Homo sapiens: one gene and its partners. The protein of the gene in region 3 binds, or shares a complex with, the protein of the main gene of each other region. Each region holds a gene or a part of one and is shown on either strand. Other genes may lie near its edges. The genes, in order: DCAF1, CCNA2 and SAMHD1.

Region 1 (10,544 bases), on a different chromosome or scaffold from region 3:
GTGAGCCCCTCCAGACCCCACACCCCTCTCCAGAGCCTACAGGCTGCTTGTGAAGTCCCTTCTCCCCTAAAGTCATGCCCACTAGTCCCTGGTTGTCCTGGTCCCTGGTCCTGTGGGGAGGCAACCAGCTTTGTGACTTCACAAAAGGCTATCTTGTCAGAAGCCTGGACCTGCTGAAGCAGGAGCAGGGCAGAGGGGGCTCCCCTCAGGAACATCATGAGACTTTTCACACAGAGACATCGCCACCTCTAAGGGATGAAGAACTTCCCCACGGTAAGAGCCCATGACACCCTCTACACCTAGAAACTCCCGTCTTGATGACTTTGGCTCCCAGGCCTAACTGGGTACCCCAGGCTGTATCTGGCAACATCTCCAAGAGGGATACGCCCATGGTAGAAGTATTTACTTCGGTTGGTGTGGTGGGTCTCTGACCTTTGAATTTGTTCCATTCAACAAAGCCATTCTTCTGTAGGCCCTCTCTTTTTTTAATTTAAAAAATTATTATTAATTTTATTTTTATTATTATTATTTTTTGAGACAGAATCTCACTCTGTTGCCTAGGCTGGAGTGCAGTGGTGTGATCTCGGCTCACTGCAACCTACGCCTCCTGGGTTCAAGCAATTCTCATGCCTCAGGCTCCTGAGTAGCTGGGATTACAGGCATGCACCACCACACCTGGCTAATTTTTGTAATTTTTTAGTAGAGATGGGGTTTTGTCATGCTGGCCAGGCTGGTCTCGAACTCTCGACCTCAGGTGATCCACCTGCCTTGCCCCCCTAAAGTGCTGGGATTATGGCGTGAGCTACCACGCCTGGCTGTAAGAATTATTTTTATTTTTATTATTTTTTATACTGATAGAGTCTCACTATGTTGCCCAGGTTGGTCTTGAACTCCTAGGCTCAATGATCCACCTGCCTCAGCCTCCCTAAGTGCTGGAATTACAGGTGTGAGCCACCGTGCCAGGCCCAGGCCTTCTTGAAATGAAATAACTGATAGAGTGGTAAACTCTTTCTGACCTGAGTCATCATGAGGGTCTGCCCCAGCAGTCTCCAGAGTACCTTCAAATGGGTCAGGCCAGAGATCCCTGAATCCTGTAGAATGGTCTATTCCCTGAATCCTGTAGAATGGTCTTTCTAAAAATCCAGGAGTGGCCAAAGCATGGTGGTTCACACCTGTCATCCCAGCACTTTGAGAGGCCAAGGTGGGTGGATCACTTGAGGTCAGGAGTTCGAGACCAGCCTGGCCAACATGGTGAAACCCCATCTCTACTAAAAATACAAAGATTAGCCAGGTGTTGTGGCGGGCACCTGTAATCCCACCTACTCAGGAGGCTGAGGCAGGAGAATTACTTGAACCCAGGATGCAGAGGTTGCAGTGAGACGAGATTGCTTCACTGCACTCCAGCCTGGGGACAGAGTGAGGCTCCATCTCAAAATAAATAAATAAATAAAAGTTCAGGGGTTGCCAGGCGCGGTGGCTCACGCCTGTAATCCCAGCATTTTGGGAGGCAGAGGCGGGCGGATCACGGGGTCAGGAGATCGAGACCATCCTGGTTAACACAGTGAAACCCCGTCTTTACTAAAAATATAAAAAATTAGCCAGGCGTGGTGGCGGGCGCCTGTAGTCCCAGCTACTCAGGATGCTGAGGAAGGAGAATGGCCTGAACCAGGAGGCGGAGCTTGCGGTGAGCTGAGATTGTGCCACTGCACTCCAGCCTGGGCGACAGAGCCAGACTCCATCTCAAAAAAAAAAAAAAAAAAATGTTCAGGGGCTTCTGAGAGCTTGGAGCCAAGGCCAATACAGACTCTCTCCCCAATGTTGACTCCACTCTTCCTCCTGGAAGGATTTCCAACCCCAGGAACCTGAGGCAAAAGAGGCTAGGTATGCTTGCTTTTTTATCTCCTCTTTATCTGTGCCCACTGATCGATGTGGGCACTTAAGTTGTTGACTTTGTGGAATTTGTTTCTTTCTCTGTAAAGTGAGAGTAGTGGATGTGGATGTAATCAGACATAATTACACACCCTTTGGGAAATGATGTGGCGTTCCCTCTCCTCATTTTCTGGGGGTGGGGTACAGGGGCCACCAGGCAGGAGTAGGGTACCCAGTGAATGATTGGGATTTCCTCTTTGTCCAGGCTGGTGTTCCCAAAGCCTGGTAGCCTTAAGCCTCTAATTGGTGGCTCCTGCGACACTGCTGGACACTTGCAGTAGCAGTCTTGTCTAGCCAACAGGAGAGCAGGGGTGGATATGGGACAGCTGACCTCACTTCCCAGCCCCAGGGAAGGGAATTGCTGGAGGAAGCGCAGGAGTTGTGGGGTGGCACCAGGGTGAGGATGGGCTTGTGGGAGCACCTGGGTAAGCCTAGAAGGAGGTGCTGGGAGTGAAAAGCTCATAGAAGGATGGGAGCGGGAGAAGGAGGAGAATGAAGGAGAAGCTTGAAGCCTAGAGGACTTGGTGCTGTCCATCTTCCTACCCAGGGAGTGGGTGTGCTTGGAGGTGGGAGTAGGTAGAGCATGCTAATCTGTAGGCCTTGGTCCTGGGGCCAGGGCTGGGCTCTTCTTACCTTTTCTCTGCTGCTGGGCAGCCCCCAAAGCACTCCTCACTCTTTCAGATGGGGCTTCCTCTTTCTTGGGCACACCATGGAGCAGGGGGTGGAACAGGCAGAGCAAGGTGAGACGGAGTCCAGAGATGTCCTACCAAAGAGGTCAATAAATCTCCTCCCAATGGTGCAGGACCCATGTGCCACAACCAAGCCAGGTGTGTGGGCCTGGATTGTCTGTAGCTTTGTGTGTGCATATGCTTAGATGTGAAAGTATTTGTTGTGAGGACTGGGTGCCTAATGCACAGTGTGCATGCTTGTATATCTGGCACATGTGGGTATCTGTGAAATATGCCACCAAGCACACTTGGAATGCGTGTGCAGTTGGGAAAGCCTGGGTGCTCCCTCTTCTTTTTCCCAGAAGTGGGAAGGAGGTGTTTGAAGGTGTCTGCAGGTGTGTGGCTATGTGCATGTTGGGGAGGGGGAGGTGTTGGCAGGGGTAGAGGAGGCTGCAGGAGTTAAGAGTGCAGATTCCTGAGGGCGTGGCTGCTGGAGAGGCCTTGTTTGTCTCCTCCCCTGCTTCCCCTGCCTCCTAGGCCCTGGCTTCTCCAAAGCCCCTTCTTAATGCTTCTTGCTCCCATCACCAACCCAGGGCCCCAGGCTGGGTTTGTTTTTTAAAAAAATTAAAAAAAAATTTTTTTTTGAGACAGAGTCTCTCTCTGTCACCCAGGCTGGAGTGCAGTGGCACAATGACAGCTCACTGTAGCCTCAACCTCCCAAGCTCAAGCAATCCTCCCACCTCAGCCTCATAAATAGCTGGGACTACAGGCATGCACCACCACGTCCGGCAAATTTTTAAGATATTTTGTAGAGACAGTGGAGCAAGGGTGAGGGTGGGGGTGTCTCTCTATGTTGCCCAGGTTGGTCTTGAACTCCTGGGATCAAGAGATTCTCAGCCCCTCAAAGTGCTGGGATTACAGGCATGAGCCACAGTGCTCTGACCAGGTTGGGTTTCTGAAATGAAGCAGTGCCATCTGGTGGCAGACTGAGGCAGTGCCAGGAGCGCGTGAGCTAAGCCTTGAGCTCCCCTAAGGGCTCTGCCTCTTAGGACCCCAGCCAGCGGAGAAGTCACCACTGGGCCGGCTAGACCATAGTCAGAGGGGAGATATCCAAGGCTTAAATGTCCCATCCTCATACATTTTAGGTTCATGGCCCAGGGAGGCATGGCAGGAAAGTCACCTGAAGGAGTGCTGGAGGAATGGCATGTGGGTTCCATTCCTTGTTCTACCTCTCTGGGTCCAGATTTCTCATCTGTAAAGGTGATTAACCATATCTTCCCTGTGTGTGTGGCAGGGTAGTGAGGGTTAAATGAGAGAGTGTGGCTGGAACACTTGGCTCAGGGCCCAGCATGCTCTGAAGTTGAAAGAAATGGTACTGGCCATTACTGACAGAGGTAGAGTTCCAGAAGCACAGAGAAGGGACCTGTGTGTTGTGGCAGGAGAAAGAAGTGAAGAAAGGTGACATGTCTGTGGCGCTCCCAGCACATATTAGAGAATCTCTGCTTGGAGCAGTAGCTCCAAGTTACACATTTAAGAGAAGGAGGATGGTCCCTTTTCTGGAAAGAGGGAAATGGGATCTAGTGGGGAATGAAACCAAGGGACCCAGGATTCAGGATCCTTACTAGCTGTCGAGCCTGAGCATAGCAGCAGGCTTGCTGTGTCTTGTATTCATGTGACAGTATTGCCGTGAAGACTCATGGAGATGCACGGAGACTTGCTCAGCATTCCCGGAGAGATAATGAGCTGCATAAGGCCTTGAACGCTGGGTAGGATCTTGTCAGGTCGAGATTCTGCTCAACTGTGGGTCATGTTTATCTTCTATGCCCCACAAGAGGGACTGCTGGTCAGAGTAAGGAGTCCTCTGGTTCTGCTGTTAATTGGTTGTGTGATGCTGGGCAAGTCGCTCACTCCCTCTGGGCCTCATTTTTCCCAACAACATGAAGAAATTGAATTAAGTGACCTGTGAGGTCAGTCCTGCCTTAATCTATGAGCTTTTGATTTTTCACTTCTCTGCCTCACGTATAATAACCTGGCAATAAGTATCTATTGATTCTTACAGGCTAGGTCTTGAACAAAAAGACAGAGGCTGGGTGCAGTGGCTCATGCCTGTAATCCCAACACTTCGGGGGGCCGAGGCAGGAGAATCGTTTGAGCCTAGAAATTCAAGACCAACCTGGACAACACAGTGGGACTTCGTCTCTACAAAAATTTTTAAAAATTAGCCGGGTGTGGTGGTGCACACCTGTAGCCCCGGCTACTTGGGAGGCTGAGGTGAGAAGATAGCTTGAGCCCAGGAGGTTGATTGAGGCTGTAGTGAGCTGTGATCGCGCCACTGCACTCCAGCGTGGATGACAGAGCGAGACCCTGTCAAAAAAAAAAAAAAAAAAAGACAGAGAAAAAAGAGGCTGGGAGAACTCAGCCCAGGAGTTCGAGAACAGCCTGGCCAACACGGCAAAACCATGTCTCTACCAAACACGCACATACAAAACAGAAACAAAAATTGGCTGGGTGTGGTGGCATGCGCCTGTAGTCTCAGCTGGAGGCTGAGGTGGGAGGACTGTTTGAGCCCGGGAGGCGGAGGTCATAGTGAGCTGAGATCGTCACTGCACTCCAGCCTGGGCAACAGAGCGAGACTCTGTCTCAAAAAAACAAAACAAAACAAACAAAAAACAACCAGTGCCTTCTGATTTAATGAGTGCTGTGATTTCTGATATGTTTATGAGAAATATTTTCTTAGATCACGGTATGTTCTAGGTAAGATAAGGCAAATGGCCAAATAAAACAGAGGCTCTTTGCGCACACAGGTCAGAACAAGACACTGAAAAAGTATCAGGCGATTACAGTACTGTCTTAGAAGGATTGGCTCCCTCACTTTTCACTTCCGCCTTCCGAAGCAGCCAATGAGTACTCAGCAGTTCGCATTTATCCAAAAAAACTACAAATCCAGAAGTCAATGCGCCAGGCGAAGAGCTCATGCGTCAATTGGGACTGGTGGGCCCGCCCCTAGACGCGGAACTTCATTTCCCAGGCGTCCCCGGGGCTCTTCGATTTTTTTTTTTTTTTTTTTTTTTTTTTTTTTTTTTTCCCCGATCGTGCAGGCGTTCTCTTCCCGCCCCTTGCTCGCGGTCCTCGCGCCAAGTAGGCGCGAGCGCGCGCGCGCGGTGCACGTAGCGCGCGAGTGACGCATAATATGTGGGCCGCTGTGGAGCCGTGGTCGCGCTGTGTGTGTGTGTGAGTGGAGAGTGAGTGCGGGACCTGAGGCTGTGTGTGTGTGAACTGTGGCCACTGGCGGGGTCGGGGGGGGGCAGCGGCGGAGCCGCCTCGGACGGTGAGTGGGAAATGGAGGGAGGCGACTCTACGGGAGGGGCGCGAGGAAGCAGGTCGCGCGGCTGGCCGGGCGGCAGAGTGGGCGCCGGGCTTGGGGGAGGGGCGGCACCTGCTTGGGCCGCCGGCGAGGAGGGGGCGGGCCGGTCTGCCGGGAGGCTGGGCCCGGGGCCTGACAGGACTTTTCCTCCTCCTGATTCTTGTCCTGGGGGCGGGGCCTCCACGTTCTTCCTCCACTCCCCACGAGAAGCTTCCCGAGAGTAACTCTTCCGCCCGGAGTGGGGGGGCGGGGTGTGTCCGCCCCTACCTGGAGGAGGGGCGCATTTCATTTCCCTTGTTTTCTTTTTCCTTCCAATCCTCCTAGTCTCTGTTCCGTACGGGCTTGCGGGGCTCCATCTTCCGTACTATACGGCGGGCCCCTTCCCGGACTGTGTCTCCGCCTCCAGCTCCAGTCACCTGGGCGGGCTCTCCCGTCTCTCGGCCTCGTGCCACCTCTCCCTGCACCCGCCTGCCTCTTGGACCGTGCGACGGGGGCGGAGCTTTCCGGGCGCTCCTCCCATCCCCATGAAAGAGGGAAGGGTTGGAAAGAGAGGTGTGCGGGTCCCGCAGCCTGGAGTCAAACCTCAGAGTGCCCGCGAAGCTTCCCTGGAGTCTATTTCCGGGGGTTATAGTAGTTTTCAACTGGGGTGTCAGAAGCGTTTGCTTAACAACTTCACTTCTTAGACGGTTTTCTGTCTGGTTTCCTCTTACTGCGGTGGCAGCGCTCTGGTTTTCCATTTGTTGAGGAAATAGTTTTGGAGTGTTTGTATTTAGCTATTTTTGAGTCACAAATGACTCGTCCTTGGCCATGTCATGTTGGTCTTGGTTTTTCCTTACCCTGTTTTTTTGATGAAGCCTTTTAATTAGTTTACATGTCTTAATTTTTTATATTAGTAGCATCTTCCTGTTCAAAATGCATCGTTAATGTACAGAATGAGAGGTTAATTGGTAATATCATCCTGCATTTTCTTTTTCCAGCTTACTGGAGTTTACCTTTAATGTTTATGTAAATGTGTATATTTAGATTTTAGGATCTATTTAGTATTTTTCTTAATGATGTGACCATTTGGGTTTTCTATATAACATTTATTCATTACCCATTTTTGAGTGGGTATATATTTTTGGATGTTAAAGAGATAATAGAGAATTTGGGGAATGTAGGGAAATCATTTTGTACTTAGTATCTCTTGCGTAGTTGCTGAGTACAGTGTTTTACTGTTCTGCCTATTATACAGTTTTAAAATTTTTTATTTTTATTCATTTATTTTTTATAGAGACAGTGGTCTCAGTATGTTGCCCAGGCTGGTTTTGAACTCAAGTGATCCTCCCTGGTCAGCCTCCCGAAGTGTTGGAATTACAGACATGAGCCACTACACCTGGCCTGTTTTTTTAGATACAGGATCTTGCCCTGTAGCCTAGGCTGGAGTGCAGTGGTGTGATAACTCTTTTTTTTTTTTTTTTCTTTTTTCTTTTTTTTTGAGACAGCGTCTCATTCTGTTGCCCCAGCTAGAGTGCAGTGGCGCGATCTTGTCTCACTGCAACCTCCGCCTCCCAGGTTCAAGTGATTCTCCTGCCTCAGCCTCCGGAGTAGCTGGGACTACAGGCACGCGCCACCACGCCCGGATAATTTTTGTATTTATAGTAGAGATGGGGTTTCAGCATATTGGCCAGGCTGGTCTCAAGCTCTTGTCCTCGTGATCTGCCCACCTCGGCCTCCCAAAGTGCTGGGATTACAGATGTAAGCCACTGCGCTGGCTTTTTTTTTTTTTTTTTTTTTTTTTTTTTTTTGAGACAGAGTCTCACTGTGTTGCCCAGGCTGGAGTGCAGTGGCGCGATCTCAGCTCACTGCAAGCTCCGCCTCCCAGGTTCACGCCATTCTCGTGCCTCAGCCTCCCAAGTAGCTAGGATTACTGGTGCCTGCCACCACGCCCGGCTAATTTTTTGTATTTTTAGTAGACACAGGGTTTCACCGTGTTAGCCATGATGGTCTCGAGTGTCATCATAACTCATTGCAGCCTCCAACAACTCCTGGGCTCAAAGGAGCCTGCTGCCTCAGCCTCTTGAGTAACTAGGACCGCAGTCACAGGCTAACATGATTGGCTAATTTTTAAATATTTGTGTCGACTGTGTCTCAAAATGTTGCCCAGCTGACCTCAAGCAATCCTTCCGACTTGGCTTCCCAAATTGCTGGGATTACAGGCTTGAGCCACTGTGCCTGTCAATTTAAAAAAAATTTTTTTTTCTTTTTTTTGAGACGGAGTCTTGCTCTGTTGCCCAGGCTGGAGTGCAGTGGTGCAATCTCGGCTCACTGCAACCTCCACCTCCCGGGTTCAAGCGATTCTCCTGCCTCAGCCTCCCGAGTAACTGGGACTACAGGCGCGTGCCACCATGCCCAGCTAATTTTTGTATTTTTAGTAGACACGGGGTTTCACCATGTTGGTCCGGCTGGTCATGAACTCCTGACCTCGTGATCCACCGCCTAGGCCTCCCAAAGTGCTGGGATTACAGGCGTGAGCCACCGTGCCCGCCTATTTTTATTTTTTTTGAGACAGTCTTCCTGTGTCACCTAGCCTGGAGTGCAGTGGTGCGATCTTTGCCCACTGTAACCTCTGCCTCCCAGGTTCAAGCGATTCTCATGCCTCAGCCTCTGGAGTAGCTGGGATTACAGGTGTGTGCCCCCACGCCTGGCTAATTTTTTTATTTTTTGTAGAGATGGGGATTTGCCGCGTTGGCCAGGCTGGTCTTGAACTTTTGGCCTCAAGTAATCCACCCACTTCAGTCTCCCAAAGTGCTAGGATTACAGGCATGAGCCATAGTGCCTGGCAAACAGTTGTTAATATTATGCCATATTTTCTCTATTTGTGTGTGTGGTATCTATATATATATTTTGTGGAATCATTTGAAAATAAGTTGCAGGCCTGTCATCCCTAAATACCCTAGCAGATGCTTGTTAGGATAAGAAAATTTTACATAAGTATTTCTTGAGGCTTTATATTATCCCATCATGGGGACAATATTGTCATTTAACCCCGCACAACAACTGTTTCCATCTTGCAGATAAGGAAATTGAGATTTGGAGAAGTTAAATAACCAAGACTTCACAGGTATGTCAGCAGAGTTGGGATTTGAATCCTTGAAACCTTTTTTCTACCTAGTACTAGCTGGTCTTGGGGACCTCTCTGAGCTAGTTTCCTCATGTGTGAAAAAGGGTAGGATGGTTGTGAAAATTCAGAATAATGTAAGTATGGTAAATTACTTAGCTCAATGTCTGTCCCATACTAGATATTCACTAATTGGTAACTACCGTGTCACCATTGGACAGACCATCATTTCTTCATAGCACTTAAAGGAACTCACTTAAGAACTTGAGTAATGCACCCTTATTGTCTTGGGCATAACAAGGTGAAGATGACTGTTTTCTTTGCTCTTGTTGTGCAAGCTGGAGTGCAGTGGCGCGATCTCGGCTCACTGCAACCTCTGTCTCCTGGGTTCAAGCGATTCTGCTGCCTCAGCCTCCGGAGCAGCTGGGATTACAGGCGTGTGCCACCATGCCTGGCTAATTTTGTTGGTATTTTTAGTAGAGATGCGGTTTCACCATGTTGGCCAGGTGGTCTCGAACTCCTGACCTTGTGATCTGCCGGCCTCGGCCTCCCAAGGTGCTGGGATTACAGGCGTGAGCCACTGCGCCCGGCCTAATTTTGTATTTTTAGTAGAGACAGGGTTTCTCCATATTAGTCAGGCTGGTCTCGAACTCCCAACCTCAGGTGATCTGCCTGCCTTGGCCTCCTAAAGTGCTGAGATTACAGGTGTGAGCCACTGTGCCCGGCCTTTTTTTTTTTTCCTTGAGACAAGGTCTCGCACTTTTGCTCTGGCTGGAGTACAGTGGTGCAGTTATGGCTCACTGCAGCCTCCACCTCCTAGGCTCAAGCAGTTCTCTTGCTTCAGCCTCCCCAGGTAGCTGGGACTACAGGTTGCAGTGAGCCAAGATTGTGTCCCTGCACTCCCGCCTGGGCAGCAGAGCGAGATTCCGTCTCACAAAACAAAAAACAAACACAAAAAAACGAACATTGAAGTAAGTACTACTACTACTGATTTTTAAATTTTTTTCATAGAGGCAGGATTTCACCATGTTGTCCAGGCTGGTCTCAAACTCCTGGGCTCAAGCGATCTGCCCACCTAGGTTTTCCAAAGTGCTGGGATTACAGGTGTGAGCCACCACACTCAGTTGCTGACTGCTTTCATTGATACTATGTTAATTCACATTGCTATTATTAGTTAAGTCTGTTACAAGTTTATATTTTCCTTTATTTAGTCTGTTACAAGTTTATATTTTCCTTTATTTATGTATTTAAATAATAAAGACAAGGTCTTACTGTTACCCAGGCTGGTCTCAAACCCCTGGGCTCAAGTGATCCTCCTACCTCAGCCTTCCAAAGTGCTGGGATTACAAGTGTGAGCCACCACGCCTTGCCTTTATATTTTTTTATTCTTTATTATTCTTAATATTTTTTTTGAGATGGAGTTTTGCTCTTGTCGCCCAGGCTGGAGTGCAGTGGTGCAATCTCGGCTCACTGCAACTTCTGC
Region 2 (11,254 bases), on a different chromosome or scaffold from region 3:
AAATGAATGTCAGAATTTGAGGGTCTGTTTTCCTAAACCTACTTTAATTTTAGAGGAAGGCTTTTCACTTCCCATTATATAGTAAACCAAGTAAACTTCTTTACTAAGCAAAATCCTGAAGAAGTTAAATTTGACTTGCAAAGTTTTCCAAATCAATTTATTATCCTGACAGCTGGCATCATTAATACTTTAACAAAACCACTTAAAATTAGCCAAATATCTAAGACAGATACATATACAAAAGATATACAAATTAAAACCATTTAAAAAGTAATAGATACCATAATTTGTACTTGGCCACAACTTCTGTATTCAGAAATGATTGTAAAATTAAAACCTAAGTTAAAAACTGTACACCATATACTTTGAGTGATTTACATCTTAGAAAACAAAGGCAGTCTTTCATTGTTACAGATTTAGTGTCTCTGGTGGGTTGAGGAGAGAAACACCATGATACCTGTAAGTAGGGAAAAAAAAAGCATTTTTAGTAAACACTCACTGGGTAAAGGAGATCATGGAATAATGTTTGTACTCATGTATTGGGAACTAAAAAATGCTATTTCTGTCTGACCGACTTGATGGTTTTAGAAACACTGTCTGGTCCCTGAAACACACATGCATGCCCCCTTCCTTCTCTCTTCTCCCCCAGACCCAGGGCAGAAAGCATGAACTACAACCTTCTTCAAACACATAACCAATTTAGAGAACAGCTTCTCAAGGAGGCTATGGCAGATTCATGAATAAGGTTAAAATGTCAAAGATCTCTGAACCATAATCTAGAAAAGTAAGCTTCAATATCCAAGTTAATTCTTACTTTGAATTTTTGTACTTTTCTCTTATTGACTGTTGTGCATGCTGTGGTGCTTTGAGGTAGGTCTGGTGAAGGTCCATGAGACAAGGCTTAAGACTTTCCAGGGTATATCCAGTCTTTCGTATTAATGATTCAGGCTACAGAGAAGGGAATAGAGAACCCCTGAGTTTTGCTTTTAGTAACACACCAAACACAGTAAATAGTTGGCATTAAGCTTATGTTAAATTCCAGTACTAATCTTTAACTTTTCCAACTACTAGTTTTCTCAGGCCATTATTCCATCCCTCGATCCATTTTCTACTACTTTCCCTGCCAGCAACAGGTCAGATGCTTTTAAAAAAGCTCACCTTTCAATCCAAGTTACAACTAAGCTTACTACCTAACAAACACTGTTCAACAGGTAACATGCCTTAAACAGTATATAATCATCCCTCAGTGTACATGAGGGATTGGTTCCAGGACCCTTCCCAAATATACCCAAATCTGTACATATTCAAGTCCTGCAGTCACCCTTCCATATATATGGGTTGTGAATCCCCTGAATACTGTAGTTTCAGTCCACATTTGATTGGAAAAAAATCCATGTGTAAGTGGACTCACACAGTTCAAACCTGTGTTTTTCAAAGGTCAACTATATATATTTGAAGTTTTTCCAAGTAAGAACATCTAGGCAACCCTCAGTTTTGTAGGACAATTATTATTTAATCTGGCACAGGCATTTCAGTCACAAGATAGGTGTGTGAAGACCGTAATACATACCCAGCTTTGTCCCGTGACTGTGTAGAGTGCTAAATGAAAGGCAGCTCCAGCAATAACTGATGGCAAATACTTGAGGTATGGGTCAGCATCTATCAAACTTAATTCTCCCAAAAACTGGAATAAAAAATACTTTATGATCACAAGAGCGTTTAGAATTCAAATGTCAAACCTCTGCCTTCTAACCTAATTTTTTCCTGCCTTTGATAACGGCTCTGTAGCAACTCTAGAAAAAATATCTCACAGCCTCATCTTTAAACATATCAATCATTTTAGTGTTTTGTTCCATCCTCATCCTGTATTTTCCCTCCTTTATTAACTTTTAAAAAACAACTCTTCTGACTACCCATCCCCAAGATGTCATCCTTAGACCTCTGCTTCTAGTGCTTTCCTGATATAGATTATCTTTTGCCAGCAGTAGGCTTTCTTCCATACTGCAGCATTAATCTCCCTCTGAATACTAAATCTCTTCACCACTGCTGTACAAAGGAACTAGGTTCCTTTACAAAGGAATTAGGGCTTACCCCTAATTATTACCAAAGAATCACCATTCAACAAAATGAAAGTTAACTCACCATTGCTAAACTTTCAACTTTGCAGTTTGCAGGCTGCTGATGCAGAAAGTATTGGGTAAGAAACTGATTTACTGTTGGAGCAGCTAAGTCAAAAGTAAGGACTTTCAAAACTAGATGCTCCATTCTCAGAACTTGTTTCTTGGTGTAGGTATCATCTGTAATGTACACAAACTCTGCTACTTCTGGGGGGTATATTTCTTCAAACTTTCTACAATGAAAAAAGTTTTAAGTAATCAGTCCTAAAAGAGAAGCAAGCTTCCTTATCCCAGTTCTGAAATCCCATTAGCAGAATATGGAATGAATCCAAAATCCACACCAACTGCATTTCCAGACACTTGATCATCATTTCTAGTAGAGACTGGATAGCTAATTGCTAATTAAAAGGCCCAAATCAATAAAGGACTTTTGAGATATTTTCCCCAGTTCAGTCAAAGGAAGTAAATGAAAGGCATGAGACTTCTCGAGATGGGAACAATGCCAGAGTTCACCAAGTAGCTGAAAATTTAGGAAATACAAGTCTTAGGAAAACATGTTTCATGTTTTCATTTTTAAATTTAGTTTTTCTTTCTTTTTTTTTTTTTTTTTTGAGACAAGAGTCTTGCTCTGTCGCCCAGGCCAGAGTGCAGTGGTGCAATCTTAGCTCGCTGCAACTTCCACCTCCTGGGTTCAAGCGATTCTCTTGCCTCAGCCTCCCTAGTAGCTGAGATTACAGGCATGCATCACCATGCCCAGCTAATTTTTGTATTTTTAGTAGAGACAGGGTTTCGCCATGATGGCCAGGCTGGTCTCAAACTCCTGACCTCAAGTGATCCGCCCACCTCGGCCTCCCAAAGTGCTGGGATTACAGGCGCGAGCCACCGCACCCAGCCTTTACTTCTTAATAAAAGAGACACTGCTTATATGCCAGAAAGTAATATTGGAAGGAAAATGTTTTAAAATTTGTAACCTAGTGTACTATATCATGTTCAAGGAATCCAGTTGGGGGAAAATTAGTGTTCTAGATTAGAACAGTTTCATCCTCCTCCACTGCCCTAAGCCCCAGCACATTGCCATCCCTAAAGTAGTCACTGACTCTGCCTGGTGTATGTTAAAAGGTCACCATTAAAAAAATCAATTTCTTCCCTAGACAAAAGGTCGTGATCACTTTTAAACAAACCAAGGTAGACTTACGAGGCTAACAGCATAGCAGCAGTGCCCACAAGCTGAAGTTTTCCTCTCAGCACTGACATGGAAGACAGGAACCTATCAATGTAGTTCACAGCCAAATGCAGGGTCTCATTCTGTAGTTTATATTCTTCTCCTACTTCAACTAACCAGTCCACGAGGATAGCTCTCATACTGTTAGTGATGTCTGGCTGTTTCTTCATGTAACCCACTTTAGGTTTACATTTAACCTATTGAGAAAATTATTTATAGTGTTAAAATTATTCTAGTGTAAAAACTGCAATTAGATTATTTTACCATTAATTACGAGAGGCTACATGCTATAAACTTAACTGTAGCATTAGAATAATTCATTAGTTTAAAAATTTAAACATTATCCTCTCAATTTCATTTAGCCACATTTAACAAATACATTATACAAACTGGATTCAGAGAACCTTTACCTCCATTTCCCTAAGGTATGTGTGAATATCCTCATGGTAGTCTGGTACTTCATTAACACTCACTGGCTTTTCATCTTCTAATATAATTGACATGTCCATAGTATGTGGTGACTCTGGGACAATTCAAAAGATATGATTAAATTAATTGTTTGCCTATTTAGTTTAATAGCTAAAAATGACTGCCATGGAAGGAATCTCATATTAACAAAGCACTTATTTCTTCAAACTAAAAAGAGCTTCTCATGACAAAATATGTAGAATATTTTACCCTAGTCTCAGTATCTCTGTACATAGAACTTTGGAATGATTTTAGTTAATGAGGGAAAAAAAAAAAAACATATTGGTAGGCCCCTAACAGGAAAATGAGAATCAGGTATTATCTTAAAGTATCCATCTTCCACAACAGAAAGGAGCAAATGGCATGGTGGTTCTGTTAGGACAGAACACTTTTAAAATCCAAGTTTTGAGATAATATCTAAGATTTGTCCCAAGAGAAACTGCAGATCCCAGAGTCTGACATATATAAAGCACAAGTAGGCAATAGCTAGCATCAGTTAAATGGCCTCTATTAACAAGTGTTATTAAGAAATTAGGTTTGTTATGGGCAAATGGATTAACACTATAAATAATTTATTTTTTGTAGTATAAATTATTTTGAAGCAAAGAGTATCATCCATTATTCCTTTCACTTCAAAGATCACCTTGAGATTAAACATTTTCTGCAAAATTTTGATAAAAACACACAAATTATTATTTCCAAAGGACTTTTCCTGCTCACCCCTCCTTCCTCACAATCAATACAACTAAAACTAAAATGAGATTGGATTTAGTGAGCTGTCCAGTGACTCAATATCCCTAGGGCAAAGAAATAGTACAAACTGCAAAGAGCTGTTTACAGAAGCTACTTTAATACATGGGTAAGAGTAAACAGCCATGGTACAACTATTTACTTGTAGGAGGAAAAGTGTCACTTTCTGGTATCAGATGCTAATCCAGACTGGTTTTATAGAAACAAAATTATAAAACTGGAAGAGACGTTATGTAATCACAATATTTAAGACTGCATCTTCAAATAGCACTAAGTGATATATAAGTGAGTTAAATAAAACTGAAATCTATTCTCCCAACCAAGAACACATTTATGGGATCAGATTAAAATAAGCATTTAAGATCTAATTATAATTAGATTGATGTGACTGGCAGTGAACCTGAAAGAGCACTGGATAAGGATCTTTTTGTATGTCACCAAGTCAAGTGTTAGCTGTGAGATCTGAGATAAGTCACATCCTTTCTAAGCCTTGTTACATTAAACCTAACTCACTATAGTCAAAATGACTACATAAGACATCTTAAAATGCAAATCATTAATATCATCTAATAATTATAATTACCGTAATTCCACACAGATTTTCCTTAAAACTTACCAAAACTACCATCCATTGGATAATCAAGAGGGACCAATGGTTTTCTGGGTCCAGGTAAACTAATGGCTGAATTAAAAGCCAGGGCATCTTCACGCTCTATTTTTTGAGATTCAGCTGGCTTCTTCTGAGCTTCTTTTTCTGCTTCATCCACATGAATGGTGAACGCAGGCTGTTTACTGTTTGCTTTCCAAGGAGGAACGGTGACATGCTCATCATTTACAGGAAGATCCTTAAGGGGTGCAACCTAAAAAAAAATTAATAACTGGCTTTGAGCCTACTAGTCTTGCATTCTTTCTCTTATGGGTGTTGGCCTTTGCTTTTTCTCCCAAATACTCTATCAGGAATTAAACTTTCTGGGACAAAGAAGAGTTTCAGTATTCAAAAGAGAAGGGATGTTCCCATTTGTCACAGGCATTCCCACAAAGGCTATCAATAGATAACACTAGGTGGAATTATGCAAAACTTATCAGGGCCACAAGAAGGGTCGGGTGACAGGCCAATACGTGACAAGTTTAGGAAAGACAGCAAAAAAATTGTTGGTTCACCACTGTCGCCCGAGGGTGGAGCAACAGAGCAAATCCGGCTAAAATGGCGGAATTTGCCAAAAGCAAAGTATTTTGTACACGCTTTTCTAAAGTAGAGGTCATCTCTTAAGCGTGAGGAGGATAGGGGTCAGAGTCCTACAGCAGTGCCTGGGGTTTAAAAGTGGAGAGAAAGGCGCGGAGCTGAGCGAAGACTACACGTTTTAGAGCTTGGTTTGACCCCATTATGTACAGGCAGATGCCCCCTATAGAGAGCAGACCGGCAGCATACACACAGTGTTGGCGGGGTCCTGATGCTAATATGGGAGAACTCCTACTGTGGCAAACCACACACCAGCACCAACTGCACTCCAGACCCTGGCCCCCTTCCAAAAGCCCAGGACATGCCTTCTCGCCACTCTTCTCTGCCTGCTAAGCCAATGCCAAACCCTGCTCGACCCACCCTCCTGCAGATATCCCGCATCCCTTTACCCGTCTCGTCTTCGGCCTCTGCTGCTGCGCTAGACCCCGCGGGTTCCCGGACTTCAGTACCGCCAGCGCGGCCCGGGTCCGCGGTTGTTGGACGGGCGCTGCCTTTTCCGGGTTGATATTCTCCTGGTCCTCTTGGAGCGCCGTCTGCTGCAATGCTAGCAGCGCCGAGCCCGCCTCGCGGGTCGCAGGCCCCGGCGCAGAGTTGCCCAACATCACTGCTCCCGGGAGTGGACGGCGGGATCAGCCTGCGGCGCCAAGCAGCGTGCACTCTGCCCAGCCGACCACTCGCACCGACCCGGCCAAAGAATAGTCGTAGCCGCCGGTCGCAGCCCAGGCCAGCCTACCAGCCCGCCCGCTCGCTCACCCAGCTCGAGACCACGCAGGGCCGAGGAGGTTGCGAAAGGCGCAGGCAGGCACTGCCCAGCGTGGCGAGCCAAAGACGCCCAGAGATGCAGCGAGCAGCCCGCCGGAGCGGCGGCTGTTCTTGCAGTTCAAGTATCCCGCGACTATTGAAATGGACCAATGAAAGCGCTCGCGGCCTTGACGTCATTCAAGGCGACAGGGTCGCAGGCGAGTGAAGGGTAAACCAAAGGAAACTGAGCAGGGGCGGGGCAGGAGGGAGAAACAAACTGGCTGGGGCGGGAGAAAACGCCTGCGCGGGGCGGGGAGAGGTAGGATTTAGGGCCCGACGCTTCCGATTATTTTAAGCTGAGCCACCTAGTGAGCGAGGCTGTCCGAAGGCTGACTCTAAGCCTTTTAGGGAATTAAACGGAATTAAACTTTGGCGACTATCATTTGGGTTGCCCAGCCTTTAGCTCTGGGACGTCTAGTTAGCTTAAGTGACTTTTTCCAAAGGTCTAAAATCTGGGGCACGTTTTTCAGTATCTCCGATTCTCCGTTTTCTTATGTGTTAATAGGGACTAATAACTACAGTCATATGGTTGTTAGGATTAAATAATGTGCATAAATTATTTAACACGGAGCTCACATAGTAATACAGTACTCAAGTGTCAAGACTGTAATGTCATCTTAACATTTAGGCGTTTATTCATAGTAACCAGAAATTGTGTTTTATGCTTTTTATTTTTCCTAATGAAGATGCAATTAATTTAAGATGGCACCTTGAACTACTGTTGATATATATAATAAATAGCAGTGCATTACAAAATATTCAAATACAGTCATTAATTTTTTTCTATTTTTCCCCAAGCTGTGGCAACCAACAAAAAACACAATGACGTTCTAGTGACCTAGATATAATTATGTTCCTTTCAGAAGTAAAGTTTTTTAAACATAGTAAAAACAATATGACCTTATTAAAATAAAACTCTCTTAACTATACGTGCCTTTAACAAATTTTTATATTTATATATAAATATAAGAATATACAAAGCTTGCACATAACTAATAAGTATAATAGCATATCATTAAGAAGCACTGTTTTCTAAAAAATTCGTGAGTCTGCCCTTCTTGAAACATAAAGCTTATTTTCCATTATCTGTATGCCATTTTAAAACCTTTCAATATTCCCTTGAAATTAATAAATATGAATTAAGATTAATGCACAAAACTTCTGTAGCCTTAATGTCATATATGATAAAAAGAGATCTAGAAGATACTAGTGTAGGAAAATCTAAGATGGCATCACTATTTCTGCACTCTTCACTTGAAGCACGCTGAATAGCTCCACTGGTTACAGCATGTCTAATTAAGATCCCCCGACTCTGTGTAAGCTCTTCTTATTTCCTGGCTACAATTTATAGCACTGAGCCAAGTCCAGCATTTCCACAAACTGCAGCAGAGTCATAAAACACTACCAAGCAAAAGGAATATCAGTTGCAAATCAATCCTATCTCCTAGAAAAAACAATTGGTAGGTTATTTCCACTAGCTGGCAACATACATAGTAACCAGGACACAAAGCAAGTACCAGTACTTGGGTTCTGGTCCCAGCTTTACAAAATATTAGCATGTCCTCTTAATCACAAAATTTCACTGAGAATCAGTTTTCTTATATGATTTGACAAATTTTACAACAGTTGTGAAGATCAAATAAGGTAATATATAAAAATACATTTTGAAGCCTATAAAGCGGTCTACATGTTTATGTGTTTATGTACCTTGTAATACATTTGAATATATTTTAATTTTCCACATATTACTTCTCAATTTAAAAATTAAAACAGCCACTTGCCAAAAATTCATTAAAATCCTATTTAAATCATTCTACTTGTGTTTTAAAAATAAAAAGACTCTTTTAGTTTTAGAAAGTTCAATTTGTCAAAAGAAATAGAAGCATTACTTTAAAAAGCCATTATATCTCAAATATTTTTAGATATAAAAAAGCATTTGAAATTAAAGTACATACACAGTTAACTTCTAATTCTCTTTTAACATTTTTCATTTAAACAGACCACTTCTTTGGGACTTTACCTTATTTGTATGTCATGCTGCATCGAAGAATGAAATCAATGCATTTTGGTCATAACTGTCCAGAATTTCCAATAGAAGGGGTACTTTAGTTTTTACATTGGTGCCTTTAAACTTAAATTTATCTATGAAAAGATCAGTGATCATGCCTTTAAAGAAAAAACATAAATTTCCTGTCAGTGATTAGTTATATTTAATGACACAGTATTTCACTAAAGTAATTGCTTGATAATCTATTTTTAAGCACCTGTAATTCCATGATTTAACATACACAAACCTAAAAGCCATGTTTTTAAAAATAGTCATTTTGGGGGGATTTTAAAACAAGTTTCAAGATATAAATCATCTGCCTAATAACCCTCTTAACAATTGATTACAAGCTATTAATTCAGACAATCAACTACTGGCCATTTTTGAACTGCTATCAGTATATATAACATCACAACAAGTGGTATATTTTTTCCACCAAGCTGACCATTTTGACATAGTCTAGGCAGATTCTATTTTTAACAGCTTATCTGAATTAAAATATTCCACCTATATGTTGACCATTCTTGGGATTTGACTTGAAGGCAAATAGTCCTAGGTTCAAAGATCTGGGCAAATCATTTCACCTTGAGTTTTCTCATATGTAAAACAGGAATAATTCAAGCTGTCAATCCTTTATCCAAAAAGCTTGATGCAAGATGTATTTCAGAATTTTTCCTATTTTAGGAAGATAATGAAAGGAATATACTATGGTATTAACCCCAAGGGGACTGAGTAGCAGCATCCAATAGCAAAACATAGTACTATTTCTGGCACAAAATATACGGATGAATATTTGCACTAAGTGGAATAAAAAAGATATAACCTTGGGCTGGGCACGGTGGCTCATGCCTGTAATCCCAGCACTTTGGGAGGCTGAGGTGGGCAGATCACGAAGTCAGGGGTTGGAGACCAGCCTGGCCAATATGGTGAAACCCTGTCTCTACTAAAAGTACAAAAAAATTAGCTGGGCATGGTGGCGCACACCTGTAATCGCAGCTACTCAGGAGGCTGAGGCAGGAGAATTGCTTGAACCCAGGGGGCAGAGGCTGCAGTAAGCCGAGATCGCGCCACTGACTCCAGCCTGGGAGACCAAGCGAGACTCTGTCTCAAAAAACAAACAAACAAACAAACAAAAAATATATATAAAACCTCATGTCAGTTTAAGTCAGATTTTGTTATTAAATTAATTCAGATTAAGTCAAGATTTTGCTGTCAAATTATTTATGAAAAAAACTTTGGTTTACAAAGCTGTCTGGATTTTGCAATCAGTGATATTATGTACAGCCAATCTCATAAGTTATTATAAGGATAAAAGAGATCATGTGCTTGTCATGTAATAAAGGTTAAGACATTAAATATAGCTACAGTTTGTGAGAAAGTCTCTGGATATGTAATAAAAAATTCAGTAGGCAGGCTTAAGGATCCATGTGTACTAGTGATACCAATTGGCTCTACAGTGACTATGGAAGGCTTGGCATAGTGTAAAAGGCATGCATTTTGGGGTGAGAAGATTCTAATGCAGGCATGATCACTAACTTGCTAGGTGACAACAAATTCCTTAGACTCAGATTTCAGTTAAAGCATATGAAAAATGAAGATAATACCACCTACCTTGCAGAGCTATTGTAAGGATTAAATATCTCACCTGATTATGAAGACAGTGTAAATAGTGTGCTATATACAACAGGTCTTATGTAAAGATTGCTAACAAAATTGTTTTTCTTAAGCTGTTTCTTCCTTCCTCACTCCTTCTTTCCCTCTCCTCACCTCCCTTACTCTGTTTCAATACAATTTGTGAAACATTCAGCTTCTCACCACCAAAGTTTTGAACTATAAATTGACACAACACAAATACTGTATATCCTTTATTAAATTTTGCCTTAAAAATTTTAAATGCTGCATTTTTATAATTCACAATAGCAACAAAACATGACAATTATTTGTGTGAAATACAGTCTAAGCTCTAAAGGTTCATAGATTACATTCATTTTATACCAGGTTTGTTCATATATATAGATTAATTCATCACAGTATACTTATTTCTTAATATACTTGCATTTTATCAAGTAAAAGAATTAAATATTAAAAGTAGCTTGACAAAATACAGAAATATTCTGTGCAATAAATTTGTTGTCAACTGATTCATGACTGGTTCATGAATCATGACTGATGTAATCTTTTTATCTTTCTGCCCAGCTTCTCTTACATGATCCTTGGGAAATAGCCAGTTGAAAAGAAATATGGCAAGGTATTCTAGAATGGTCCACTAACCATAGAGTCTTTCAAGATGTGCAGGTTGCTTTTTGTATTCTTCCTGTAGGTGATCTGCCTCTTCTAGAATACAGTGATATTCTGGTATCAGAAAGTTCGTATTTCCCTCATGAATCTGTAATTCCTATTTAAAATGAAAAACAGAAGCACCTTAATATTCAAAATTCAATCCAATGTAATGTTAAAGTATTGATAATTTTAGAAATCCTATGACTTCAAATAATAATCACCAGTCCACGACGACACATGTACTTACTTTTAAAGCATCAATTAACTGCACTTTCTTAGCCAAAAGCAACTGGTACTCCAGCTTTGGGTGGATTAGCTTTAAAGTGTGT
Region 3 (10,654 bases):
AGATGGACCATCTATGTTACCTGTTACTTCTTACCTGTCAGCTTAGTATAGGCTTCCATGTCGTCAATTGCTGTAGAAATGCGATACTTTTTTCCTCCAGCACCTGTAATCTCTATGTAGTCATCTGCTTTGAGGAAAGCATCTGTAATCCTAAAAATCATTTTGCAAAAATTTATGTTTATGAGAAATTTTGAATATTTGCCTTATGTCTTACTTAAGGAAATCTTTCTACTTTAGGGAAACAAAATAATGAGGCACAGTGTTCTAAAGACAACTGCTTCTCCACCGTACTAAATTTGTGCTTGGTAAGCTGTGAGCTGCCATGCTTACTGTGTTCCAGGCACTGTCGCAGGGCTTTGCATTCACCATCTTATTTATTCCTCCCAACAATAAGGTAGGTGTATTCAGCCCTCATTTTATAGATGCAGAAATGAAGTAAATTTTGATTTAACCAAGTTAGGAAGAAACAGTGCCAGGCTTTGAAACTAGATATCTCTGAATTACAAAACAACAACAATAACAACAACAAAAACTCTTACCGAAGAATTAACATACAAATAGGAGAAGGTATTCCAAGTAATCTGCTCATGACAAAGGATAGGTAAAAAATAGGAATGAAGATATACTTCCTCAACACAAATGTGAAAACGAACATGAAAAGTTAATCAATTTAAGGCTATTTTAGAGACATGGAAGAAGTAACTTGACTCACACCCAGTGTTTGATAACTCCTTATGGATCTTTGAGTCACGGAGAGACCTGGCTGTACAGTTTTCTGCTATGGTTCTGACTGGGTCAGGAAGAGGTAAAATTCCTGTTGGTTTTACCATTTGGTACTAATTTTGATAAATATTTGAAAGGATACAAATAGACATTAATCTTAATCCTTAAAGTTAACTTTTGTCATTAATCTCAGAATTTAAATATTCATGTCCTACCTCCCATTCTCCTGATGAGAATGGTGTGTAAGTGACTACCTGTGCCGAGGTCCTGAGTGATCTCAGCACTGCCGCTTCACGTCTGGCCTAAGCCAGCTCTTCTTCCCTTCATCTGCCCCTTTATCCACTTCCCTCCATCTGCCCCTTTATCCACTTCCCTCCTTTTCCTCCAACTAAATTAACTTTATGCTAGATTTTTTTTCTTTAAGGAAACCATTTTCAATTTAATCACTTAATATTCACTTGAACTCATCTAGAAATGTCTAGTTGAGCCTAGTATGATACTCTAGCCAAGTATCAAGGAAAATTTTATAGGGAAATGACAATCAAGTTTCTTACATTGTATCAATAATGTTGCCAACTTTGTGTTGATAAGCTCTACGGTGTAAAGAGTTGCGAGTGTGGAACATGTCATACAGATTTCCAACTTCCTGCAGGAAAACATGAAGTAAATATTAATAGGATCAGATTATGTTAACGTTATTAGAGACAAGTATATAGGACAAGGAAGGAAAAGGGATAGTGGCAGACAAGAGGGCTATGCACCGGGGCTTCTTCATTAACACCTTTGACCCCACTAAAAAATGAGGAGGCAGATTAGTAAAGCCATTTATTGGCTTGCAACTTTCATTTTTTTTTTTTTTTTTTTTTTTTTTAAAAGATGAGGTCTTGCTATGTTGCTCAGGCTGGTCTTAAGTGATCTTCCTACCTCAGCCTTGCTGGGATAACATGCATCAGCCACTGTACCCAGCTAACTTTCATTCTTTGTTTTTTTTTTTTTTTTTTTTTTTTTTGAGATGGAGTCTCGATCTGTTGCCCAGGCTGGAGTACAAGTCCTTCATTGCAAGAACTTTCATTCTTTTTCTTTTCTTTCTTCCTTTTTTTTTTTTTTTGAGATGGAGTCTCGCTCTGTTGCCCAGGCTGGAGTGCAGTGGCGCCATCTCGGCTCACTGCAAGCTTTGCCTCCTGGGTTCATGCCATTCTCCCGCCTCAGTCTCCCGAGTGGCTGGGACTACAGGCGCCTGCCACCAAGCCCGGCTAATTTTTTTGTATTTTTAGTAGAGATGGAGTTTCACTGTGTTAGCCAGGATGGTCTCAATCTCCTGACCTCATGATCTGCCCGCCTCGGCCTCCCATAGTGCTGGGATTACAGGCGTGAGCCACTGTGCCCGGCCAAGAACTTTCATTCTTAATAAACTAGGCCAGGTGCGATGGCTCATGCCTGTAACCCCAGCACTTTGGGAGGCCGAGGTGGGCAGATCACCTGAGGTCAGGAGTTCAAGACCAGCCTGGCCAACATGGTGAAACCCTGTCTCTACAAAAATACAAAAATTAGCCGGGCATGATGGCGGGTGCCTGTAATCCCAGCTACTAGGGAGGCTGAGGTGGGAGAATCACTTGAACCCAGGAGGCGGAGGTTGCAGTGAGCGGAGATCACGCCATTGCACTCCAGTCTGGGTGACAGAGCAAGACTCCAACTCAAAGAAAAAAAAAAAAAACCCTAAAATCTATCACATGCTCAAACTCTGTGACAGTTTCCGTTTTAGGCATCTTAAATTAAATATATATATATTTTAATCCTCCCAATAACTCTAGGAAATAGGTATTACTATTCTTATGTTCTTCATTCTTGACTTTTTTTTTTTTTTTTAGACAGTCTCGCTCTGTCACCCAGGTTGGAATGCAGTGGCACACAATCTTGGCTCACTGCAACCTCCACCTCCCAGGTTCAACCGATTCTCGTACCTCATCCTCCTGAGTAGCTGGGATTACAGGTGTATGCTACCACGCCTGGCTAATTTTTGTATTTTCAGTAGAGACAGGGTTTCACTATGTTGGCCAGGATGGTCTCAAACTCGGTAGCCCAAGAGATTTGCCCACCTCAGCCTTGCGAAGTAGTGGGATTACAGATATGTACCACCACGCCTAGCCCTTCTTGACTTTCTATAGTATAGTACTATACTACTTTTTGATTACATGACTGCCATCTAACAGGGACCTAGTGATTTCAGCTGTTTAACTACAGTTGACCTTTAACAACACATGTTTGAACTGTGAGAGTTCACTTATACAGATTTCCTTGCCCCGCTGCCACCCCTGAGACAGTAAGACCAATCCCTCCTGTTCCTGAGCCTACTTAATGTGAAGACGATGAGGATGAAGACCTTTATGATGATCTACTTCCACTTAATGAATAGTAAATATACTTTCTCTGCCTTATGAATTTCTTTCTTTCTTTTTTTTTTTGAGGTGGAGCCTTGCTCTGCCGCCCAGGCTGGAGTGCAGTGGCGCAATCTCGGCTTACCACAGCCTCCGCCTCCCGGGTTCAAGTTATTTTTCTGCCTCAGCCTCCCAAGTAGCTGGGATTACAGGCACTCGCCACTGCGCCCAGCTAATTTTTGTATTTTGAGTAGAGACGGAGTTTCACCATGTTGCCCAGGTTGGCCAGGCTGGTCTCGAACTTCTAACCTCAGGTGATCTGCCCACCTTGGCCTCCCAAAGTGCTGGGAATACAGGTGTGAGCCACCACGCCTGGCCTTGCCTTATGATTTTCTTAATAACATTTTCTTTTCTCTAGCTTACTTTATTGTAAGAATACAGTAGATGGGGCGTGGCGGCTCACACATGTAATACCAGCACTTTGGGAGGCCAAGGAGGACAAGTTGCTTGAGGTCAGAAGTTCGAGACCAGCCTGGGGAACATAGCGAAACCCTGTCTCTACAAAAAAAAAAATAGAAAAATTAGCCCGGTATAGTGGCATGCGCCTGTGGTCCCAGCTATTCGGGAAGCTGAAGTGGGAGATTTGCTTGAGCTGGGAAGGTGGAGGTTGCAGTGATCTGAGATCGCACCACTACACTCCAATCTGGGTGACAGAGTAAGATCCTGTATCCAAAAAGAAAAAAAAGAATATGGTATATGATACACGTAACATTCAAAATAGGCTGGATGCAGTGGCTCACACCTATAATCATAGCACTTTAGGAGACTGAGGTGGATGGGTTGCTTGAGCCCAGGAGTTTGAGACCAGCCTGGGCAACACAGTGAAACTCCACCTCTGTAAAATAAATTTCAGAATTAGCCAAGCATAGGCCTGTAGTCCCAGCTACTCGGGAGGCAGAGGAGGAAGGATCAGTTGAGCCCAGGAAGTCAAGGCTACAATGCACTATGATAGTGCCACTGTACTCCAGCCTGAGTAACACAGCAAGACCCTGTCTGGAAAGAAAACAAAAAACATACAAAATGTGTGTAACTGACCATTAAGGTTATCAATAAGGCTTCTGGTCAACAGAAGGCTATTTAGTTAAGTTTTTGGGAAGTCAAAAGTTATATGCAGGCCAGGTACAGTGGCTTACACCTATAATGCCAGCACTTTGGGAGGCTGAAGCGGGTGGATCACTTGAGGTGAGGAGTTCGAGACCAGCCTGGCCAACATGGTGAAACCCTGTTTCCACTAAAAAGACAAAAATTAGCTGGGCGTGGTAGCATGCATCTGTAAACCTAGCTAGTCACAAGGCTGAGGCAGAAAAATCACTTGAAGCCAGGAGGCAGAGCTTGCAGTGAGCCGAGATCATGCCACTGTACCCCAGCCTAGGCAACAGTGGGAGACTCCATCTCCAAAAAAAAAAAAAGGTAAAGAAAAGTTTTATACAGATTTTCAACTAGGAGAGGGGACAGCACCCCTAAACACCATTTTGTTCAGGTGTCAACTGTATAAAATTTTTCAACACTAATACAGTGATTAAAAATGAGACTCTGGGCCAGGCACCTTGGCTCATGCCTGTAATCCCAGCACTTTGGGAGGCCGAGGCGGGCAGATCACGAGGTCAAGAGATTGAGACCATCCTGGCTAACACGGTGAAACCCTGTCTCTACTAAAAATACAAAAAAAATTAGCCGGGCATAGTGGCGAGTGCCTGTAGTCCCAGCTACTAGGGAGGCTGAGGCAGGAGAATGGCGTGAACCCGGGAGGCGGAGCTTGCAGTGAGCCGAGATCGTGCCACTGCACTCCAGCCTGGGTGACTGAGCGAGACTCCGTCTCAAAAAAAAAAAGAGAGAGACTCTGGAACCAAACTTTTTGGGTTGAAATTCCAACTCTACCACTTGTTAATTATATGCCTTCTCTGTGCCTTAATTTGCTTGCCTGTTGAATGGAATAATAGTATCTATCTCACAGGGTTATACGGAATGAGTTGATCCGTCCAAAGCACTTAAAATGATGCCTCATACAAGCCAGGCATGATAGTGTGCACCTGTAGTCCCAGCTACTTGGGAGGCTGAGGAGGGAGGATCACTTGAGCTCAGGAGTTCAAGACTAGCCTGGGCAACACAGTGAGATCCTATTTCAAAAAAAAAAAATGCAACCAACCAAACAAAAAAACCCCAAAACCAGTGTCTAACTCAAAACTTAATAAATGTCCATGTTAATTTTATTATTATTTAATAATGCAGTAGAAGGGAAGAGACTAAAGATATTTACAAATCCTAGGAATTAAGTAAAGAGACTGACGATTTACCAATTATTCCAAATTGTTAAATGGTTATTTCCAAATTTCAGACCAGGAACAACATTCTTCTTATTGCCTCCTCTGGCACAGCTTACCTTATCTCTAGCACAAATACGCAACTCATTGTCTACTTCACAGACACGGGCAAACTTAATAAAGCGCTTGTAATCAAAATTATTTTGGATTCCAAGATGATGGCAGTCCCTAGAAGGATTCCAAAACAGAGAGATGAAATTTTTCAACAAGGAAGCTGTACCTTAAATAGTAATACTAAATTTATATAAATATTTTAGCCAACTTTTCAGAAGTGTTCAGTGCATACCTGGCAAAATAATCCCATTTGTCCACATCAATGCCATTTCTTTTATTAGATACTATCTCATAAAGGAAGCTTTTGTTTTCAGGACGCCCTTTATATGGCCACTGGAAGGCAAGAAAACCCACTGGAAGTTTTAGGATAGGCACCAAATCTATTTATAAACAAAGCAAAGCAATTTTATTAATCTGTAAAATATAAACAGATACCTGACTGGGAATATGAGATAAACTAGAAGGTTCTATTCTTTCTTTCTTCCACTTCATTTCAAAACTAGTAGAAAGGGAAAAGAAATGCTAAGGTATATGATACCCTATTGTTACCACATTTTCTTGTGCCACTGAAAAGATCTGAACTCTATTACATTTCCCAAAACCAACAACTTTTGTGTTTTCTTGGTTTATAAGTTTTTGAAAAATATAAAATCTAGGCCAGGCATGGTGGCTCACGCCTGTAATCTCATCACTTTGGGAGGCCGAGGAGGGCGGATCACGAGGTCTGGAGTTTGAAACCAGCTTGGCCAAGATGGTGAAACCCTGTCTCTACTAAAAACACAAAATTAGTTGGGCATGGTAGCAAGTGCCTGTACTCCCAGCTACTCAGGAGGCTGAGGCAGGAGAATCGCCTGAACTCAGGAGGCGGAGGTTGCAGTGACCTGAGGTTGTGCCACTGCCCTCTAGCCTGGGCAACAGAGCAAGACACCGTCTCAAAAATAAATAAATAAATAATATAAAATCTAATAATAAACTAACAATGCTTGAATTCATGCATTAAAACAGTACTATCTTTCAAAGTAGCTACATACCTAGTCTAAATAATATGCATTGTTGAATGTATTCTTTGAGCTCCACTTTTTTGGAAATAGGATATTTGCTACAAAACTCATCTGTTTATCTTATACTGTAAGTACACTTGTATATATTTGAGGAAACAGCCCTAAAAATCTCAGGGGGAAATTATTTCCCAACTTTATTTTTAATTAAAAAAATACAAAAGATCAAAAAGGAAACAAAACAGATTTTCCATTGAACTGGTTCAACTTTTTTGTAGATCTTCCTATAAATATTTCAAATATGATTTTTTTTTAAATTTGTAGACAGGATCTAGCTCTGTTGCCCAGGCTGGAGTGCAGTTGCACAATCACAGATCACTGCAGCCTGCCTCAGCCTCCCAAGCATCTGAGACTACAGGCATGAGACAGGGTTTCAGTATTACCCAGGCTGATCTCAAACTCCTGGGCTCAAGTGATCCTCCCATCATGGCCTCCCAAAGTGCTGGGATTACAGGCATGAGTCACTGAGCCTGGCCAAATATGTTCATTTTAATGGTTAAATAAAACATACACATTTACATTCCAAACAAAGTTACTTTAGGCTTCTATATAAAATACTGCAGGCCAGGTATGGTGGCTCACGCCTGCAATCCCAGTATTTTGGGAGGCCAAAGTGGGAGAATCACTTGAGCCCAGGAGTTCGAAACCAGCTTAGGCAACATAGTGAGACCACATCTCCAAAAAAAAAAATTTTTTTTAATGAATAAAATACTGCATATATATTCACTAAAAAAGAATTTATGGCCGGGCGCGGTGGCGGCTCACGCTTGTAATCCCACCACTTTGGGAGGCTGAGGCGGGTGGATCACCTGAGGTCAGGAGTTTGAGACCAGCCTGGGCAACATGGTGAAACCCCGTCTCTACTAAAAATACAAAGATTTGCCGGGCGTGGTGGCACACACCTGTAATCCCAGCTACTCAGGAGGCTGAAGCAGAAGAATTGCTTGAGCCTGGGAGACAGAGGTTGCACTGCGCTGAGATCATGCCACTGTACTCCAGCCTGGCCAACACAGTAAGACTCTATCTCAAAAAAAAAAAAAAAAAAAAAAAGAAAGAAAGAAAGAAAAGAAAAGAATTTATGCCAAGCACAGTGGCTCACACCTGTAATCCCAGCACTTTCAGAGGCAGAGCTGGGCAGATCACTTGAGCTCAGGATTTCAAGACTAACCTGGGCAACGTGACAAAACCCCATCTCTACAAAAAATACAAAAATTAGCTGGGCATGGTAGTGCACGTTTGTGGTCCCAGCTACTCAGGAGGCTGAGGTAGGAGGATCGCTTGAGCCTGGGAGGTGGAAGTTGCAGTGAGCTGAGATTGTGCCACTGCACTCCAGCCTGTGTGACAGAGTAAGACCCTGTCTCTAAAAAGAATTTCTGTATATATATTTTTGGGAAGTAACTTCTAACTAATTCAGTTGAGAGGTAGAAAAAAATATAAGCCTTTTATTTTTTGCATTAAACAGTAGAAACATAGAACTCATATTTTATCATTTAGCCTCTAAAATAGCCAAATGTATAACTCAGAAGGAATCATGAAAAGGCTAGATGAAAAGCACCAGTCAGTTAAAATTAAGCTGTACATAAACTTACCAATGAATCTTCGACAGGTGATTCAAGTGGTCCTACAATTTGTTCCTTTATAAAGCAAATATCTTCTTCAGGGATGAGACCATATTGTTCCATGACAGGCTTAATTCCATTAGAATTAATAAGGTGCTCAAACATCATAACTGAGCCTTGTTCATGCTAGGAAAAGTAAGCACAATATGATGTGTTAAAGATTCTAGCCCATTGGGAGCCCTGACTAACAAAATTATCCTCAATTCCAAGTAATTCTGAGATAAAGGTCTATTGCATATTAATTCTCTAGTTTCTAACCACAATCTTAGGAACATTTTTAAAAACCTGTCAGATTTTTCATTTTACTAGTAGTCTACAAACCTTTTACAAAACTTATTTCATAAACATATTTAATGCATTTAATGATATAATCATTTACAGTTCCTAAATGAATATTATAAGATCATGTAGACAGAATTACATTTTAATAAATATCATCATAAAATTGAATTTTATTTTTTCATCAGCCTTTGAACACGTGCAGTTATAAGCTCTGTTAGGCACTACCATCTAGTGGTGAAAAGGGGTAACTGCAAACTTGCCAGTAAAAACAAAGATCTCCCTTGAAATCTCCAATTGGCCTGTTTGCTCATCTCTCTCTGCTCACTCATTCACAATCAATGTAAAGGATCAAATGAACTCCTGAAGACATCTGCCCTTTCCTAGATCCTACCAAAAACTAACTCAAGATGAAAAACAAAACCTGAATTATCCTATAACTATATTTTTTTAAAAAAAGAGACAGGGAATTGCTCTGTTGCCCTGGCTAGAGTCCAGTGATGTGATCATGGGGTCACTGTAGTCTTGAACTCCTGGGCTCAAGTGATCCTCCCACTTCAGCCTCCCGAGTAGCTGAAACCACAGGTGCACACCACCCTACCCAGCTAATTTTTAGATTTTTTTGTAGAGGCAGGGTCTTGATTTGTTGACCAGGTTGGTCTTGAACTCCTAGGCTCAAATAATCCTCCTGTCTCAGCCTCCCAAAGTGGCAGGATTACAAGCAACTTGCCCTATAACTATTCTTTCCCCGCCCCCGCAGAAACAATTCTTGCTCCAGAAACTATTCTTAAAAACAGAATCAGGGCTGTCAGGCCTGGGTGCGGTGGCTCACACCTGTAATCCCAGCGTTTTGGGAGGCCGAGGTGGGCGGATCACTTGAGGTCAACAGTACAAGTTTGGCCAACATGGCAAAACCTCCTGTCTACTAAAAAATACAAAAATTAGCCAGGCATGGTAGGGTGCACCTATAATCCCAGCTACTTGGGGGACTGAGGCAGGACAATCACTTGAACCCAGGAGGTGGAGGTTGCAGTGAGCCGAGATCGCCCTGCACTCCAGCCTGGGTGGGCAACAAAGTGACACTCTGTTTCAAAAGAAAAAAAAAAAAACCCACAAAAACAGAATCAGGCTGGGTGCAGTGGCTCACATTTGTAATCCTAGCATTTTTTTGAGAGGCAAAGGTGGGAGGATTGCTTGAGCCCAGGAGTTCGAGAGCAGCCTGGGCAACAAAGCAAGACCCTGTCTCTACAAAAAGATAAAAAGATTGGCTGGGTATAGTGACATGCGCCTGTGGTCCCAGCTACTTGGGAGACCAAGGTGGGAGGATTGCTTGAGCCCAGGTGGTTGAGGCTGCAGTTAGCTATGTTCATGCCTGTACTCCAGCCTGGGCAACAGAGCAAGACCTTGTCTCCAAAAAACAACAACAACAACAAACAAATTGGCCGGGCACAGTAGCTCACGCCTGTAATCCCAGCACTTTAGGAGGCGGAGGCAGGCAGATCACGAGGTCAGGAGATCAAGATCATACTGGCCAACATGGTGACACCCCATCTCTACTAAAAATATAAAAATTAGCTGGGTGTGGTGGCATGCACCTGTAGTCCCAGCTACTCAGGAGGCTGAAGCAGGAGAAACGCTTGAACTCGGGAGGCGGAGGTTGCAGTGAGCCGAGATCACGCCACTGCACTACAGGCTGGGCGACACAGCGAGACTCTGTCTCAAAAAAAAAAAAAAAAAAAACGAATTGAATCAAGATATACGTAATTACAAAGAGGAAAAATAGTAACTTTATAATGGAGAGATTTGACAGACAATGCCTTAATCAAGTAAGCAGAATTAATATCATTGGTATTGGCTCAACTAGGATTTATGTGCCTCCTGAGATGATACACTATGAAGGATGCATCACTGATTTTTTTGGAGACAGAGTCTAGCTCTGTCACCTCCTGGGCTCCCGGGCTCAAGCAATTCTCCTTCCTCAGCCTCCCAAGTAGGCACGTGCCACCACACCCAGCTAATTTTTTGTGGTTGTTTTTTTTTTTTTTCCCTCTTGTTGCCCAGGCTGGAGTGAAATGGCGTGATCTTGGCTCACTGCAACCTCCGCCTCCCAGGTTCAGGTGATTCTCCTGCCTCAGCCTCCCGAGTAGCTGGGATTACAGGTGCCC

What was found.
Region 1: the proteins of SAMHD1 (region 3) and DCAF1 are in contact, whole or in part, in a crystal structure (PDB 4CC9), measured with the Homo sapiens proteins. Residues at the interface, in NP_056289.2 of Homo sapiens: Ser616, Arg617, Val618, Gln619, Lys622; in NP_001336097.1 of Homo sapiens: Asn1090, Glu1091, Asp1092, Thr1114, Gln1116, Asn1132.
Region 2: the proteins of SAMHD1 (region 3) and CCNA2 are in contact, whole or in part, in a cryo-EM structure (PDB 9HIW), measured with the Homo sapiens proteins. Residues at the interface, in NP_056289.2 of Homo sapiens: Lys615, Ser616, Arg617, Val618, Gln619, Leu620, Phe621, Lys622; in NP_001228.2 of Homo sapiens: Met210, Ile213, Leu214, Trp217, Glu220, Val221, Glu224, Arg250, Leu253, Gln254, Tyr280, Ile281, Thr282, Asp283, Asp284, Thr285.

What each region holds. Positions count from the first base shown.
Region 1 is NC_000003.12:51,495,254-51,505,797, reverse strand, and holds the start of DCAF1 (DDB1- and CUL4-associated factor 1), read left to right. Parts: upstream 1-5,782; 5' UTR 5,783-5,925; intron 5,926-6,466; exon of another isoform or gene 6,467-6,908; intron 6,909-9,017; 5' UTR 9,018-9,064; intron 9,065-10,544. UniProt on the Homo sapiens protein: Acts both as a substrate recognition component of E3 ubiquitin-protein ligase complexes and as an atypical serine/threonine-protein kinase, playing key roles in various processes such as cell cycle, telomerase regulation and histone modification.
Region 2 is NC_000004.12:121,817,230-121,828,483, forward strand, and holds the start of CCNA2 (cyclin-A2), read right to left. Parts: upstream 6,655-11,254; 5' UTR 6,400-6,654; coding exon 6,187-6,399; intron 5,418-6,186; coding exon 5,174-5,417; intron 3,863-5,173; coding exon 3,750-3,862; intron 3,537-3,749; coding exon 3,313-3,536; intron 2,351-3,312; coding exon 2,143-2,350; intron 1,685-2,142; coding exon 1,571-1,684; intron 949-1,570; coding exon 815-948; intron 458-814; coding exon 409-457; 3' UTR 1-408. Other genes in the region: BBSome complex member BBS7, read right to left, coding at 8,631-8,764, 10,917-11,040, 11,173-11,254. UniProt on the Homo sapiens protein: Cyclin which controls both the G1/S and the G2/M transition phases of the cell cycle. Functions through the formation of specific serine/threonine protein kinase holoenzyme complexes with the cyclin-dependent protein kinases CDK1 or CDK2.
Region 3 is NC_000020.11:36,911,184-36,921,837, forward strand, and holds part of SAMHD1 (deoxynucleoside triphosphate triphosphohydrolase SAMHD1), read right to left. Parts: intron 8,337-10,654; coding exon 8,181-8,336; intron 5,867-8,180; coding exon 5,766-5,866; intron 5,648-5,765; coding exon 5,539-5,647; intron 1,370-5,538; coding exon 1,278-1,369; intron 151-1,277; coding exon 35-150; intron 1-34.